Homo sapiens: one gene and its partner. The gene in region 2 interacts genetically with the main gene of each other region. Each region holds a gene or a part of one and is shown on either strand. Other genes may lie near its edges.

The links.
Region 1: changes in ARGLU1 (region 2) and GBF1 together harm fitness more than expected from each alone (negative genetic interaction), as found in Homo sapiens cells (one study listed by BioGRID).

What each region holds. Positions count from the first base shown.
Region 1 is NC_000010.11:102,248,532-102,255,531, reverse strand, and holds part of GBF1 (Golgi-specific brefeldin A-resistance guanine nucleotide exchange factor 1), read right to left. Parts: intron 1-7,000. UniProt on the Homo sapiens protein: Guanine-nucleotide exchange factor (GEF) for members of the Arf family of small GTPases involved in trafficking in the early secretory pathway; its GEF activity initiates the coating of nascent vesicles via the localized generation of activated ARFs through replacement of GDP with GTP.
Region 2 is NC_000013.11:106,565,027-106,573,016, reverse strand, and holds the start of ARGLU1 (arginine and glutamate-rich protein 1), read left to right. Parts: upstream 1-4,879; 5' UTR 4,880-5,097; coding exon 5,098-5,444; intron 5,445-7,990. UniProt on the Homo sapiens protein: Dual function regulator of gene expression; regulator of transcription and modulator of alternative splicing. General coactivator of nuclear receptor-induced gene expression, including genes activated by the glucocorticoid receptor NR3C1.

The sequences.
Region 1 (7,000 bases), on a different chromosome or scaffold from region 2:
ACTAACTTTTCTCTGTATATTCTTTTTTACCTTTTGAATTTTGTGTCACAAACATATATTACCTATTAACTACTTTTAAATTTTAATCAGCTGATTGACTAAAAATGAATAAGCCCTTTAGAAAAGAAGTAACCACTTTCTAAGACAGCAAAGGTCTAAGCAAAAAATCATTGTAAAAAAGAAACATCTAGGGCTGGGCGCAGTGGTTCACGCCTATAATCCCAGCACTCTGGGAGGCTGAGGTGGGCAGATCACCTGAGGTTGGGAGTTCAAGACCAGCCTGGCCAACATGGTGAAACGCCACCTCAACTAAAAATACAAAAATTAGCCAGGTGTGGTGACACACACCTGTAATCCCAGCTGCTTGGGAGGCTGAGGCAGGAGAATCACTTGAACCCAGGAGGTGGAGGTTACAGTGAGCCGAGATCGCGCCACTGCATTCCAACCTGGGCAACAGAGTGAGACTCTGTCTCAAAAAAAAAGAAACATCTAGGGAATGAAGAGGAATTATTTTCAAGTACTATGCAGAGCTGCCTAATCTCCTTCTAGGTCTCTGAGTATGTCCCCTCACTCAGGGAATCTCCAAACAGTTGTGCCCTTCAGCTTCAGATGGGAAACTGATGAACCACTTGCTGCCTGGTAGCCAATGGCCAAGAAATCCCTTGTCACAAGGTCATAAAGGCCTGCAGAAACCTCATAAAAGTATAGTAGAAACGAACTTAAGATTTATCTTGTGTCAGAAATAACAAGAGAAATACATTCATTATGTACCCACACAAATGAAAAATTAATAGAAAAAAATAAATAAGAGAGGGAACAACTAAATAAATACCAACTAACACCCTTAGCCAGATAAGCCACTGGCCCAGAGACTCTGAGTAACATGTACCCTTGAAACCACTGTCCATTTAAAGCTGGGTCTAGAACATTCCCCTAGTGCTTTGTGGCATCCCAGTTACCTCAACAGGATCCAAAGAGGAGTCACTGTATCACTTGGCAACTCTGTCTATATCCAACAAAAGCAGGAGAAAAAGAAACAATAAATTGTATTCTTATTTAATGGAATACCAAAAATATATCTCAGGTTATTTAAATATGAAAAGCAAAACTTGAAATCTCTTAGAAGCTAATATATGAGAATATTTTCTTTTTGATTTTTTTTTAGAGATAGGGTCTTGCCATGTTGCCCAGGCTGGACTCAAACTCCTAGGCTCAAGCAATCCTTCCACAACAGCCTCTTGGGTAGCTGGGACAACAGGTGTGTGCCACAGCACCTGGCTACAGGAGAGTATTTTTATAAACTCAGCATAAGGGAGAAGTACCTAAACAAGAAACAAAAAGCAAAACCTCTTTAAAAAATTGGTGAATTCAACCATGTTAAAATTAAAAATGCCTGTTCAAAAGACAACATAAAAAAGAGGGAAAAGATAAGGCACAAACCAGAAGAAAATATTTGAGGCACATATAACTAATATAAAGGAGTAATATCCAGAGTATACAATAACTGCTACAAAACTATAAGAACTAGACATATAACCCCTCCCCAAAATTGGCAACAGAGATGAATAGGTGTTTCACAGAATAGGAAACATAAACAGCAAATAAATATATGAAAAGATTATTAGCTTCATTAATAATCAGGAAAATTACAAAATAAGATTATAATGATATACCACTTTACATTCCTGAAATAGCAAAACACTTTAAATCTGATAATACTTAAAAGGCCAGGTGCTCACGCCTATAATCCAGCATTTTAGGAGGCCGATGCAGGAGGATCACTTGAGCCAAGGAGTTTGAGAACAGCCTGGGCATCATAGCAAAACTCCATCTCTACAAAAAATTTAAAAATTAGTAGGGCATGGTGGCATGTGCCTGTAGTCCCAGCTACTTGAGAGGCTGAAGTGGGAGGATCACTTGAGCCTAGGAGGTCAAGGCTGCAGTGAGCCACGATCACACCACTGTACTCCAGCCTGGACAACAGAGTAAGACCCTGTCTCAAAAAAAAAATTGTTTTTAAGTTGGTAAAAAATGCAGACCAAGTGGCTGGTATGTATCTAAATTAATATGAATTTGAATAACAATTTGGCATTATCTTACAAAGCTAAAGCACTTCATATCCTATATTTCAGCAATTCCACTTCTAGGACTATACCCCAGAGAAGCTCACACAAAAAAATTGAGAATAGTGGCAAGCGGCAGGGAGTGTGGGGGAACTAACAGGGAAGGGCATACATACATGCAGCCTCAGTTTTGGTGATGTTATTTTTCAAGCTGGGTGGCAGCCATTGGTGCCCCATATAAGCTACACATATTCTTTGTCTAAAATAGCCCCTCGGCTGGGGGCAGTGGCTCATGCTTGTAATCCCAGCACTTTGGGAGGCCAAAGCAGGCAGATCAACTGAGGTCAGGAGTTTGAGACCAGCCTGGCCAGCATGGTGAAACCCCCACTCTACTAAAAATACAAAAATTAGCTGGGCATGATGGCAGGGGCCTGTAATCCCAGCTACTCAGGAGGCTGAGGCAGGAGGATTGCTTGAACCCAGGAGGTGGAGGTTGCAGTAAGCCAAGATTGCATCACTGGTCTCCAGCCTGGGCAGCAGAGCAAGACACCGGCTCAAAAAATAATAATAATAAAATAAAATAAAAGACCCTAAAAAGTTAAAAAGTTCCTTTTTTTTTTTTGAAACAGGGTCTCATTCTGTCGCCCAGGCTGGAGTGCAGTGGTACAATCTTGACTCACTGCAATATCTGCTTCCCAGGCTCAAGCGATCCTCCCACCTCAGCCTCCCAAGTAGCTGGAACTACAGGCATGAGTCACCATGCCTGGCTAATTTTTTTGTATTTTTTGTAGAGACAACATTTTGCCATGTTGCCCAGGCTGGTCTCAAACTCCAGAGCTCAAAGCAATCTGCCTGCCTTGGCCTCCCAAAATGCTGGGATTATAGGTGTGGGCCACCACGCCACATCATTCCTACTTTTTAAAGTCATGGTCTTTGCTGCCTCTTTGCCTTTGCATATGAAGCTCCCTTTCTATTCTGAATGTTTTTTCTCACTCTTGTCCACCTGATAAACCCTTACTCATTCCATCCAAAAGTCAATGAGGGAGTCAGAATATCACAGTGGTTCTAAGAACAATCTTAAAACCACTTATTTATTTATTTATTTATTTTTCCACTTTTTTTTTTTTTTTGAGACAGCGTTTCCCCCTTGTTGCCCAGGCTGGAGTGCAATGGCACAATCTCGGCTCACCGTAACCTCTGCCTCCCAGGTTTAAGCGATTCTCCTGCCTCAACCTCCCAGCAGCTGGGATTACATTCATGCGCCACCATGCCGGGCCAATTTTGTATTTTTAGTAGAGATGAGGTTTCTCCGTGTTGGTCAGGCTGGTCTCAAACTCCCGGCCTCAGGTGATCTGCCCACCTCGGCCTCCCAAAGTGCTGGGATTACAGGTGTGAGCCACTGCGCCCAGCCCTTTTTTCCACTTTTTTAGCAGAGTATTTTTAGTAGAGTTGGGGTTTCACCATGTTGGCCAGGCTGGTCTCAAACTCCTGGTCTCAAACTCCTGACCTCAAGTGATCTGCCTGCCTCGGCCTCTCAAAGTGCTGGGATTATAGGCATGAACTACCATGCCCGGCCACCCACAGCACTTTGTAGTTATCTCTAAACATATCTTGGCTGGGGACAGTGGCTGATGTCTGTGATCCCAGCACTTTGGGAGGCCAAGGAGGGAGCATCAGTTGAGCCTAGAAGTTCAAGACCAGCTTAGGCAACATGGCGAGACCCTGTCTCTACAAAACATAAAGAAAAATTGGCCAGGTGTGGTGGCGCACACCTGTTGTCCCAGCTACTTGGGAGGCTAAGGCAGGAGGATCACTTGAGCCCAGGAGTTCCAGGTTGCCTTGCGGTATGATCGTGCCACTGTACTCCAGCCTGGGTGACAGAGTGAGACTCTGCCTCAAATAAATAAATGAAAATAAAAATAAACACATCTTATACTAATTTATAATTATTTATTTAGTGTATCACCACCATGGGACTATCAGGCTCTATCTCAGGGGGAAAGACCATGATTTATTTACCCTTTTATCTCCAAAGCCTGACACATAGTAAGAAAAATGATCAATAAATACTAGATGAACAAATGAAATAACATCAAGACTGACTCTTCAAGAGTGGTACAGCACACATCCACCTCATGAGAAAAATGACTTCATAGAAGACAATAACTCTGAGCCACACTGGCAAACCTTTTTTTGATAATATATATTTGCTTCTCTACCAGAAGTTACAAACCTTCCATACAGGTAAAAAGAACCCACATTTACCTACCAGCCATATCATAATGCTTCTTTTTTCACGTCTATCTTCCTGACATCTCCTTAAGTGTTATTTGCACATTCACATTTTTGTGAAATATATAATTTTTAATGTAACTGTCAATTCTTCATATATGCCTTATTTTCTTTGGCTCTAAATAGCTGTTTTTAGTACACTAGTGTTTAAGTGGTTTTTTTTTTTTTCTTAATCACTTTTATGGGGTTTGGTTTTGTGTTTGTTTGGTTGTTTGTTTTGAGACAGAGTTTCGCTCTTGTCGTCTAGGCTGGAGTGCAGTGGCGCAATCTCGGCTCACTGCAACCTCCACCTCCAGGGTTCAAGTGATTCTCCTGCCTCAGCCTCCCGAGTAGCTGGGATTACAGGCGCCCACAACCACGCCTAGCTAATTTTTATATTTTTAGTAGAGACAGCGTTTCACCATGTTGGCCAGGCTGGCCTTTAACTCCTGACCTCAGGTGATCTGCCTCCCTTGACTTCCCAAAGTGCTGGCATTACAGGCATGAGCTACCACGCCCGGCCTCTTAATCACTTTTAAACATTTCCTTGGCCAGGTGCAGTAGCTCTCATCTTTAATCCCAGCACTTTAGGAGGCCAAAGCAGGAGGAATGGTTGAGCTCAGGAGTCAGAGACCAGCCTAGGCAACATAAATTAAAAAAAAAAAAAAAAAAATTAGTGGGACATAGTGATACATGCCTGTAGTTCCAGCCACTAGGGAGCCTAAGGTAGGAGGATCAGTTGAGCCAAAAAAAATCAAGGCTGCAATGGGCTATGATGACACCACTGGACTCTGGGCAACATAGTAAAATCCTGTGTCTACAAAAAACACAAAAATCAGGCAGGCGTGGTGGCACGCACCTATAGTCCCAGCTACTCAGGAGGCTGAGATGGGAGGATCACTTCAGCCTGAGAGGCAAAGGTTGCAGTGAGCCGAGATCTCACACCACTGCATTCCAGCTTGGGTGGCAGAGAGAGACTCTGTCTCAAAAAAAAATTATTCTTATCCAACTAGCAAATAAATTCTCCAAAGGCAAAAGCGCAATTTTGTTTTTCTTTTTCATGATGCCTTTGTGTCTAATACAGAGCTGGGCAAACCAAGAAAAACTGATGGACTTTCTGAAAAGGTAGATGGTAGTAGGGAGCTAAAGGACCAGCAATAGGCCCTTCTAAGGTTTATGTTCACTCAATACCTTTAAAAGCCAGAGAAGGCTGGGCGCATTGGCTCACACCTATAATCCCAGCACTTTGGGAGGCCGAGGTGGGCGGATCACGAAGTCAAGAGTTCAAGACCAGCCTGGCCAATATGGTGAAACCACATCTCTATTAAAAATACAAAAATTAGCTGGGTGTGGTGGCGTGCACCTGTAGTCCCAGCTACTTGGGAGGCTAAGGCAGGAGAATTGCTTGAACCCAGGAGGCGGAGGTTGCAGTGAGCCAAGATCACACCACTGCACTCCAGCCTGGGCAACAGAGCAAGACTCCATCAGAGAAAAAAAAAAAAAAAGCCAGAGAAACACTAAAGATGCAGAGCTTTTAACATTTCCAGAGCTGGCCTAGGAACACATCATAGTTCTGTGCTTTATTGAGAATAACCAAAGTTACTAAACTAGGAAACAACTTACTGAGCTCAAGAAATTTACTTAAAGGGTGGAAGTAAAAGAAGGTTAAACTGGGAAAAAAGCTGGTGCCCTGACAATGCATCACTGGAAAATCCTCCCAGACCTGATAATCGGGTGACCAGGGTACCTCAGCTCTAGCATGCCATCTCCTCCCCCTGTGGAGATTCTGAGAGTATCTCAAAAACCGTTTACAAGGTAAGCTACTAATATGTCCAAAGCTGTCCCTTCTGCCAGCTTGGAGATGAAAAATAAAACAAACCTTCTCTATCTCACTCCATCTTTTAGCCACTCAGGGCACCCAAGGTACAAAGGTGACAGCTGGCAGAGTAGGACAAAGAAAAAAAGTCTATGTGATTATGTATAGAGAACTGCAGTGATTAAGTCTCATAAGGCCTGCCCATTTTGTTTATTGAGGGTCATCATCCAGTAACCATTGGGCAGAATCCAGTCCACAGACATATTTTCTTTGGCCTGAAAAAGGCTTAAAAATACTTTTAACTAGTTTCCAACAATTAGAAAACACAATGATCTAAATTTCCAGTTTCTCCTGAAAAATAGAAAGAGTGGTCATTCTGTGCCTGCACTCTAAAACAGTAACAATCTGCTGAAAAAGGAGCAGTTGGCTCTTCTAAATAAAGGAATGGGTTGAGCATGGTGGTTCATTCCTAAAATCCCAGCACTTTGGGAGGCAAAAGTGGGAGGACTGCTTGAGTCTAGGAGTTCGAAACCAGCCTGAGCAATACAGTGAGACCTTGTCTCTACAAAATATTAAAAAATTAGCTGGGCATGATGGCGCACATCTGTGTTCCCCGCTACTTGGGAGGCTGAGGTAGGAAGATCACTTGAGCCCAGAGGTCAAGGCTGCAGTGAGCTGTGATCGTTCCTCTGCACTCCAGCCGGGGTGACAGAGCAAGACCCTGTCTCAATAAAAAGAAATTAAAATTAAAGACAAAAAAAAAATAAAGGCATGGGTTGTCCAGTACACAACAGTCCCCACTAATCCTAATACATTCCCATGGGACTCAATTAACTCATTTACATTACCT
Region 2 (7,990 bases):
TAGACATAACTCTCTGAGCAACTAAGATGGTATTTTCCATTAACAAGGCAATCAATACTTACGACGCTTCATGGGCATGTTGTAAAATACATCTCAAACTTTGAAAAGTTGGCAAAAACAATTGAGGATCAATTTAATTTAAGAATTAGGATCAGTAATTTAAGAATTAGGAGTATATTAGTCTGTTTTCACACTACTATAAAGAACTGCCCGAGACTGGGTAATTTATAAAGGAAAGAGGTTTAATTGACTCACATTTCAGCATGGCTGAGGAGGCCTCAGGAGACTTACAATCATGGCCCAAGGTGAAGGGAAAGCAAGGCACCTTCTTTACAAGGTGGCAGGAAGAAGAAATGAACCCAGGAGGAACTACCACTTATAAAACCATCAGATCTCATGAGAACTCACTCACCATCATGACAACAGCATGCGGAAACCACCCCCATGATTCAATTACCTCCACCTGGTCTCTCCCTTGACACATGGGGTTTATGGGGATTACAATTCAAAATGAGATTTTGGTTGGGAAAACAGCCAAACCATATTAAGGAGGAAAGATACATTCATGCATCTCCTATTTTTTACATTAAATTGTTCTTTGGAATGATCTGGATTTGAATGATGTGTTATTTATATTTGGCTATCCTAATTATTCAAACATGAACTGAGAAAATGCTTTTATTGGAGAAGGGAATGGAGGAAGGGAGGCAACTAAAAATTTTAAGAGTCTGAAAACAAAACAAAACAAAACAAAACAAATGAAGCCAAACTTATACTTAGGATAAAAAACCATGCAATTCTCTTCTTTCAAGGTGTATTCGGCATATATTTATCGAGGTTAGCTAACCCATAGGGTGTCAGTGGACACAAAACAGTCAAGATGCCGAGAATTTGGATTCTGGTGGCAAAAAATAGTCAATAAAGAAATACATGAGAAAATAAGGTGAGTTCAGGGAGTGTGAAATGTCAAGATTTTGATAATTATACTATAAAATGCAGGCATAAAATGTGTGTGTTCCTCATTCCTTCAATGCATCCTCAGAGATGATCCCTGGTAAATTAAGGGCTTTCATGCACTTTTTCCTTTTTTTTTTTTTTTTTTTTTTTCCTGGCAGCAGCCAAAAGACATGGCCAGAGCCTGAGCAGGGTAAATATCATCTTTTTTTTTTTAGACAGAGTCTTGCTCTGTCACTTAGGCTAGAGTGCAGTAGCCCGATCTTAGCTCACTGCAACCTCTGCCTCCTGGGTTCAAGCAATTCTCTGCCTCAGCCTCCTGAGTAGCTGGGATTACAGGCACCCGCCACCACGCCTGGCTAACTTTTGTATTTTTAGTAGAGACGGGGTTTCACCATCTTGACCAGGCTGGTCTTGAACTCTTGACTTTGTGATCCACCCGCCTCAGCCTCCCAAAGTGCTGGGATTACAGGCATGAGCCACCACGCCCGCCCCAATATCATCCTCTTTTAAAAGCTCCATAATCCCCTATACCTCTACATCCAATCTCCAGTGGTCTTATAAGAAGAGGACAGACGTACAGTAAAGATGGAGACAGGGACTAAAAGCCAAGGAATGCCAGCAAGCACCAGGAGCTAAGTGAGAGGCAGTGAACAGATTCTTCTCCAGAGCCTCCAAAGGAACCAACTTTGCTGACATTTGATTTTGGACTGCTGGACTCCAGAACTGTAAGTGAATACATTTCTGTTCATTTAAGACATCAGTCTGTGGTAATTTGTCGGGGCAGCTCTAGAAAATTTATACACTAACTCATTGGAAATAACTATCTTTATCATTAAACAGACATCATTCTGGATTATATATATATGTAATATACATATATATAAACAAAATTCCAGATATATCTATACATCATATCATATATTCACACCATATATGGATATATAAACCATATATATCATTCCCACTGGATAGATAGGTACAGATACGTACAGACAGATGGTTAGATTGACAGAAATATTTCTACTATAATGGGGGTAATTCTATACATTCTATATTAAATGTGATTTTACTTGAACGTATCTGAAGTAAAAGAATAGATCTATCCTTCTATTGCACTGTTTTCCTATTTCTGTCCTAAAATCTTGTTGTTCAGTTTATTCAATTTTGTGTAGGGCAAACAGGTACTGTTTGCTACGGTCTAAATGTTTGTGTGCCCTCCCAAACCCAGATGTTGAAATCTAATCACCAATGTAATGGTATTAGGAGGTGGGGCTGCTGGAAGATGACGGTATTAGGAGGTGGAGCCGCTGGAACACGATGGTATTAGGAGGTGGGGCTGATAGGAGACAAAGGTATTAGGAGGTGGGGCTGCTGGAACATTATGGTATGAGGAGGTGGGGCTGCTGGGAGATGACGGTATGAGGAGGTGGGGCTGCTGGGAGATGACGGTATGAGGAGGTGGGGCTGCTGGGACATGATGGTATGAGGAAGTGGAGCTGCTGGGACAGGATGGTATTAGGAGGCGGGGCTGCCGGGAGACGATGGTATTAGGAGGCGGGGCTGCCGGGAGACGATGGTATTAGGAGGCGGGGCAGCTGGGAGACGATGGTATTAGGAGGTGAGGCTGCTGGCTCTGCCCTCATGAATTGGATTAGTTCCTATCTTAGTCCATTCAGCCTACTATAAGACTACCTCAGACTGGGTCATTTATAAACAGCAGAAATTTATCGCTCAGAGTTCTGGAAGCTGGGAGTCCAAGATTAAGGCACTGGCAGATTCAGTGTCTGGTGAGGCCTCACTCTCTGCTTCATAGATGACACCTTTTTCTATGTCTTCACATGGTAAAGAACGGGTGAACAAGCTTCCTTGGGCCCCTTTTATAAGGGCATTGCTATGGCTTAAATGTATGTGTCTCTCTAGAATTCCTATGTTGGAGCCTAAAATCCACTATAATAACATTAAGAGCTGAAGCCGTTTTGGAAGTGATTAAGAAATGAGGCTCCACCCTCTTGAATGGGAATAGTATCCTTACAAAAGAGGTTGACAGGAGTGTCCTAGTTCCCCCCCCTTTTTTTTTGCCCTTTTGCCTCCCATCCCTTCCCTCATGTGAGGACACAGTGTTCGTCCCCTTCTGTGGACCCAGCAAAACAAGGCACTATCTTGGAAGCAGATAGCAAGCTCTTATCAGACACTGACTCTGCTGGTACCTTTATCTTGGACTTCTTAGCCTTCAGAACTCTGAGAAATAATGTCTATTATTTATAAATCACTCAGTCTAAAGTATTCTGTTATAGCAGTGGAAATGGGCTGAGATAGGCACTAATTCCAGTTATGAGGTTAGAGCCCTCATGACCTAATCAATATCCCAAAGCCCCACCTTTTAATACTATTGCACTGGTGATTAGGTTTCAACATATGAATCTGAGGGAACACAAACTTTCAGACCCTAGAAGTGCCACTAAAAGAGAGCTCAGAGAGCTAGCTTTCCCCTTCTATCATGTGAGGGCACTGTGAGTAGGTGCCTTCTGTGAGTCATCTGTGAATCTCTGGGTCCTCACCAGCGACCAGATTGGCTAGCACCTGGATCCTGGATTTCCAACTTTCAGAACTGTGAGAAATAAATTTGTTGTTCATAAGCTGCCTAGTTTATGATATTTTGTTACAGCAGTCAACACAGACTAATACACTACTCTTCTTTGTTTCCAAGTTTTCTTGATAATTAATTATGTGATCTTCCATATAAAACTTAAAATTAATTAGTTCTAAAACACATATCCCCAAGAGAATTTGGGACTCTCATGAGAATTGCACTAATTTTGTAATTTGACTTGGGAAGAATTGACAGTATTTTTGATACTGACTACTCACCTAAGAATACAGCATGTTTTACATTTACTAGGGCCTTATTACTGCCTTTTCAGTAAAGGTTTATAATAAAGATTGTGTAACTTGTTAAAGTTTATCCCTAAGTATTTTATGGTTTCTGTTGCCATTGTGGAGGAAATATTATTTCATTTTTAATATGTTTTTGCTTATTCAAATAATTCTAATTTTTCTTCTACTTACTTAAGCTTTATTATTGCACTCAATTTTAAAATTGAGGCACCTAGATTTTCAAGGGTTCCTGTCATCTGCAAATATTAACATTGCCTTTTCCTTTTAGGTCTTAACAATGACACAGTTTGTTGTGCCACATAGGGACGAAGCTTTTCGTGGCTAGGGTTGAGGAGGGCTTGCTGGTTATGTGCAAGGGCTTTGCACAATATGATCTAGGTTCACGTCCCTGCTCTGTCACCTACTGGTTGTGTGACCCTTATTTAACCTCTGTGGACCTCAGGGTCCTCATCTCTGAAACGTGGATAATAGTAGTACTTAATTCAGAATTGTAAGAATTAAGCACTTGTTAATACATTAAAGCATTTAGAAGGCACATTAAGCCCTATAGTAAGCATTAGGTTACATTCATCAAAACCTGCTGCCTACTTACCTCCTGCAAGTCTCATAAGCACTTCAGAAAGTGTGGTGTCTCCATTCTACGAATGAGGAAACTAAGTCCAAGGCAGCAAGTGATGAGTGCAGGGTCACTTGGAGATACATTTTAGGGCTGCCCCACAAGACCAGCTCCTAGAAAATAATGCAATCAATCAACTTCTGCGAGGCCGGACTTAAATCCCACTAAAACGTGCTTAATTCATTCAACAGGCGTTGGCATCTTACCAGGGAGGAAAAAAAAAAAAAGAGTACGCCAAGGCGAAAAGGAGAGTCTCCATCTATTGCGTCTCAGGCTTCCGCCAAGACTGGCGGAAAAAAACGAGTCCGCTCCGAAGCGCTCGCCTGCCTTCGGCAAAAATCGTCAGGAGGCGGGGCCCACGCTTCGGCACGTTTCGCGCAGGGCATTGTGGGAAGGGCGGCCGGTGCAGCCGCAGCTGCCATCTTAGGGGCGCCTGGCGCTACGGGTTTCTCGTTGGAGGCGGCCTTCGTGGCAGCTGTAGACGCCGGGAAAAGGCATAAAGTCCGTTGGCCGACACCTTTCTTTCCTCCGGCCTCGGTAGAACCGCCAGCCCGCGTCCGAAGGCGGAGGCGAGGGGAACTGGCCGCGTGAGGGGCCTGAGGCGAGCGGTTAGAGCGTCTCCCGGAAGGATGGGCCGGTCTCGGAGCCGGAGCTCGTCCCGCTCCAAGCACACCAAGAGCAGCAAGCACAACAAGAAGCGCAGCCGGTCCCGGTCGCGATCCCGGGACAAGGAGCGCGTGCGGAAGCGTTCCAAATCTCGGGAAAGTAAACGGAACCGGCGGCGGGAGTCGCGGTCCCGTTCGCGCTCCACCAACACGGCCGTGTCCCGGCGCGAGCGGGACCGGGAGCGCGCCTCGTCCCCGCCCGACCGCATCGACATCTTCGGGCGCACGGTGAGCAAGCGCAGCAGCCTGGACGAGAAGCAGAAGCGAGAGGAGGAGGAGAAGAAAGCGGAGTTCGAGCGGCAGCGAAAAATGTGAGTGCCCGCGCGGGGAGGGACCGGGGCGTGCGGAGAGCAGGGCGCGGGGCGAGGGCGTGGGGCCGGGGCGGGACGGTGCGGGCCGGGAGAATGGCGGGGACGGTCCGGGGCTGGGGACCGGGCGCGGGAACGGGTCGGAGAGGCGGCGGCGGGGCGGGCAGGCTTGGCGTTTGGAAAGCTTGGGGTGGGACAGACCCAGAAGTTGTTCGGGATGGAAAATTCGAGGGCTTGAGCAGAAAGGGTTTAAGAGAAGGCGATTTTGGCGCGAGAGAGGAGTGGTGTCCCGGAAGTAGGGGTGGAGTTCGGAGTGAGGTCGGAGAGCTGCGTTGGCTTGTGAGGCCGGGAGCGAGCCGGCCTGCAGATGTGGAGGGTGGTGAGCGTTTGCTGGTCGGCTTGAGGAGGAGAGAGAAGGGAATTAACCTTTGAGATGCGAATCACAGCTGGCCAGAAGCATTCTATTGAAGCTCAAATTTGGGACAGGACTTAACTAATCTCGGGAATCATACACTTTAGGTGGTCCGCCAGAAAAATGCATTTTCACTTTAGTGTATTCCTGTTGTTAAGGTGTTGGGATTGCTTTTTTCCCCTTGAGCCTACACCCTCACCCCTTCCTTGAGATGTTAAAAAAAAAAAGCATAGACCTTAAGTGTACAGTGCGATGAGTTTTTTGACCTTTGAATTCACCTGTGTAATCACCATCCCAAAGCCTACCGCTTTTTTAACTTGCTTTCTATTCCTGTAGCAAACACGTGCAGTTTTGTTGTTTCCCTTACACTGTGCTTCTTCAGAAGACACTTGAAGGGTTGATTTTATTTTGGCGTTGCTCCCATGAAGGATATTTAGTGAAAACTAGAGTTAGAGTGTGTTTCCGAAAATGTCAGCTCTCAAGTATTTCTGGCTATGAAAGTAGATGTGGATAAATAATCCCAAACTAAAGGAATTTTTGGGTTTTAAAATTTAGGGATTTGTTGTGTGTTTTGCTTTATGATCATCGTACTTTGATGCTCTGGGTATTCAGTTTCCAAAAACCGCATTGAAAAGTAGATTTGAACAGTCCTACTAACTCCCTATTGAACCAGCCGTACTTGGTCAGTTCTTCAGTGAATATTTAGAAAGTGCTCATGAAGCAAGAACGTTACTGAATTTATGATTTTCTCGAGGCGAGTATATGTGTGCTGAATTGACTGCGTGGTTTGTAGTTTTCTGTAGTTGGGTTTGTGTTAGGTAGATTTTCCAGCACACACACACAGCTTGTTTCTAAAACCAAAGTTACTAAAAGGTAGGACTGGAGCACTAATATTACAGAGGAAGCTGTACCTGGAGCTGTTTTGCTTCCAACACTCCTTTAAAACACATGCAACACTCATTTTTCCTGTACTTAGAACTGTCAGTGATACATATGAAAACAAAGTTCAAGTAATCGTTTCAAATTAAACCTTGATTTTGTAGAATACAACTTTTGGGTCTGCAACAAGGCCCTTAGCTGTAAAGATCTCAAATAGCTATCAACAGATGGATGTATGAAAAGTTACCTAAGACATTGCTGAGATAATTTCTACATGTGAAAACAAAGGAGACCTCCAAAGAGTAATAACTTGCCTTTCACTAGAAAGCTAAGATATGTAGGAAAAATGAAAAGAAACTTGGTATGCAAAGAATAAATAGAAGCATTTAGCAGGTTTCGCATGTATAGCAGACAAGAAATTCAGGAATGAAATACGGCAAATAGAGGAGCTATATGGTTCTCTGGTTTGAGAGAAGACACAAACTGCCAATAGTATTTAGGAGGGAGAAGGGACCAGGACTAGCAGCCACCTGTACTCTAAATTCCTGGGTGCCGTACAATAGGCATTTTATTTAATATATTCTAATGTCTTGGAAACAATGCAAAAGAAACAATGGAAAGACTTAAGTGTTGGAGCTTTGGCAGTGTAAGGAAACAGTTTGCAGTCTACATATCCTGTTGGTTATTTTATTCATTTAACTGATGTTTATTGAGCATTTAATAAGTGCCAGGCACTGTGCTAGGTACTGTTAATATAAAGATGATTGGCCCTTCTCCAAGAGCTTGATCTAGCTCAAAGACAGATCATTAAATAGGCAATAATACAGTGTAGTAAATTTAGTGACAGTAATATAAACTGTATAAAGGAAGTATCCTGTGTGGGTGGAGGATATAAGAATATGACAATGTCAGGCAAGGTATAGGACATATGTGGAGCACAGAAAAGAGCCTCCTCCCCCGACTCCTGCCAAAATAGAGGAAATGGTCTTAAAAGTGGAATGATCAGGTGACTGTTGACTTAGAACACGAAGTTCTATAAATATTTAAGTCATGGAGTGACTGGAGAGGTAAATAGAGGCTGGGAATCATGTTAGGGTTATTGTATGTCATATTAAAGAGCTTGGATTGCATCCTAGAAACGGGAAGGATTTTAAGCAGGTGAATGACATGGTGCCTTTTTTGTTTTGATTGTTGTGTAGGATGGAAACTAAGAGGTGGGTACAGAAGTTTACACAGGAGTAGTGAGGATGGTTGTTGG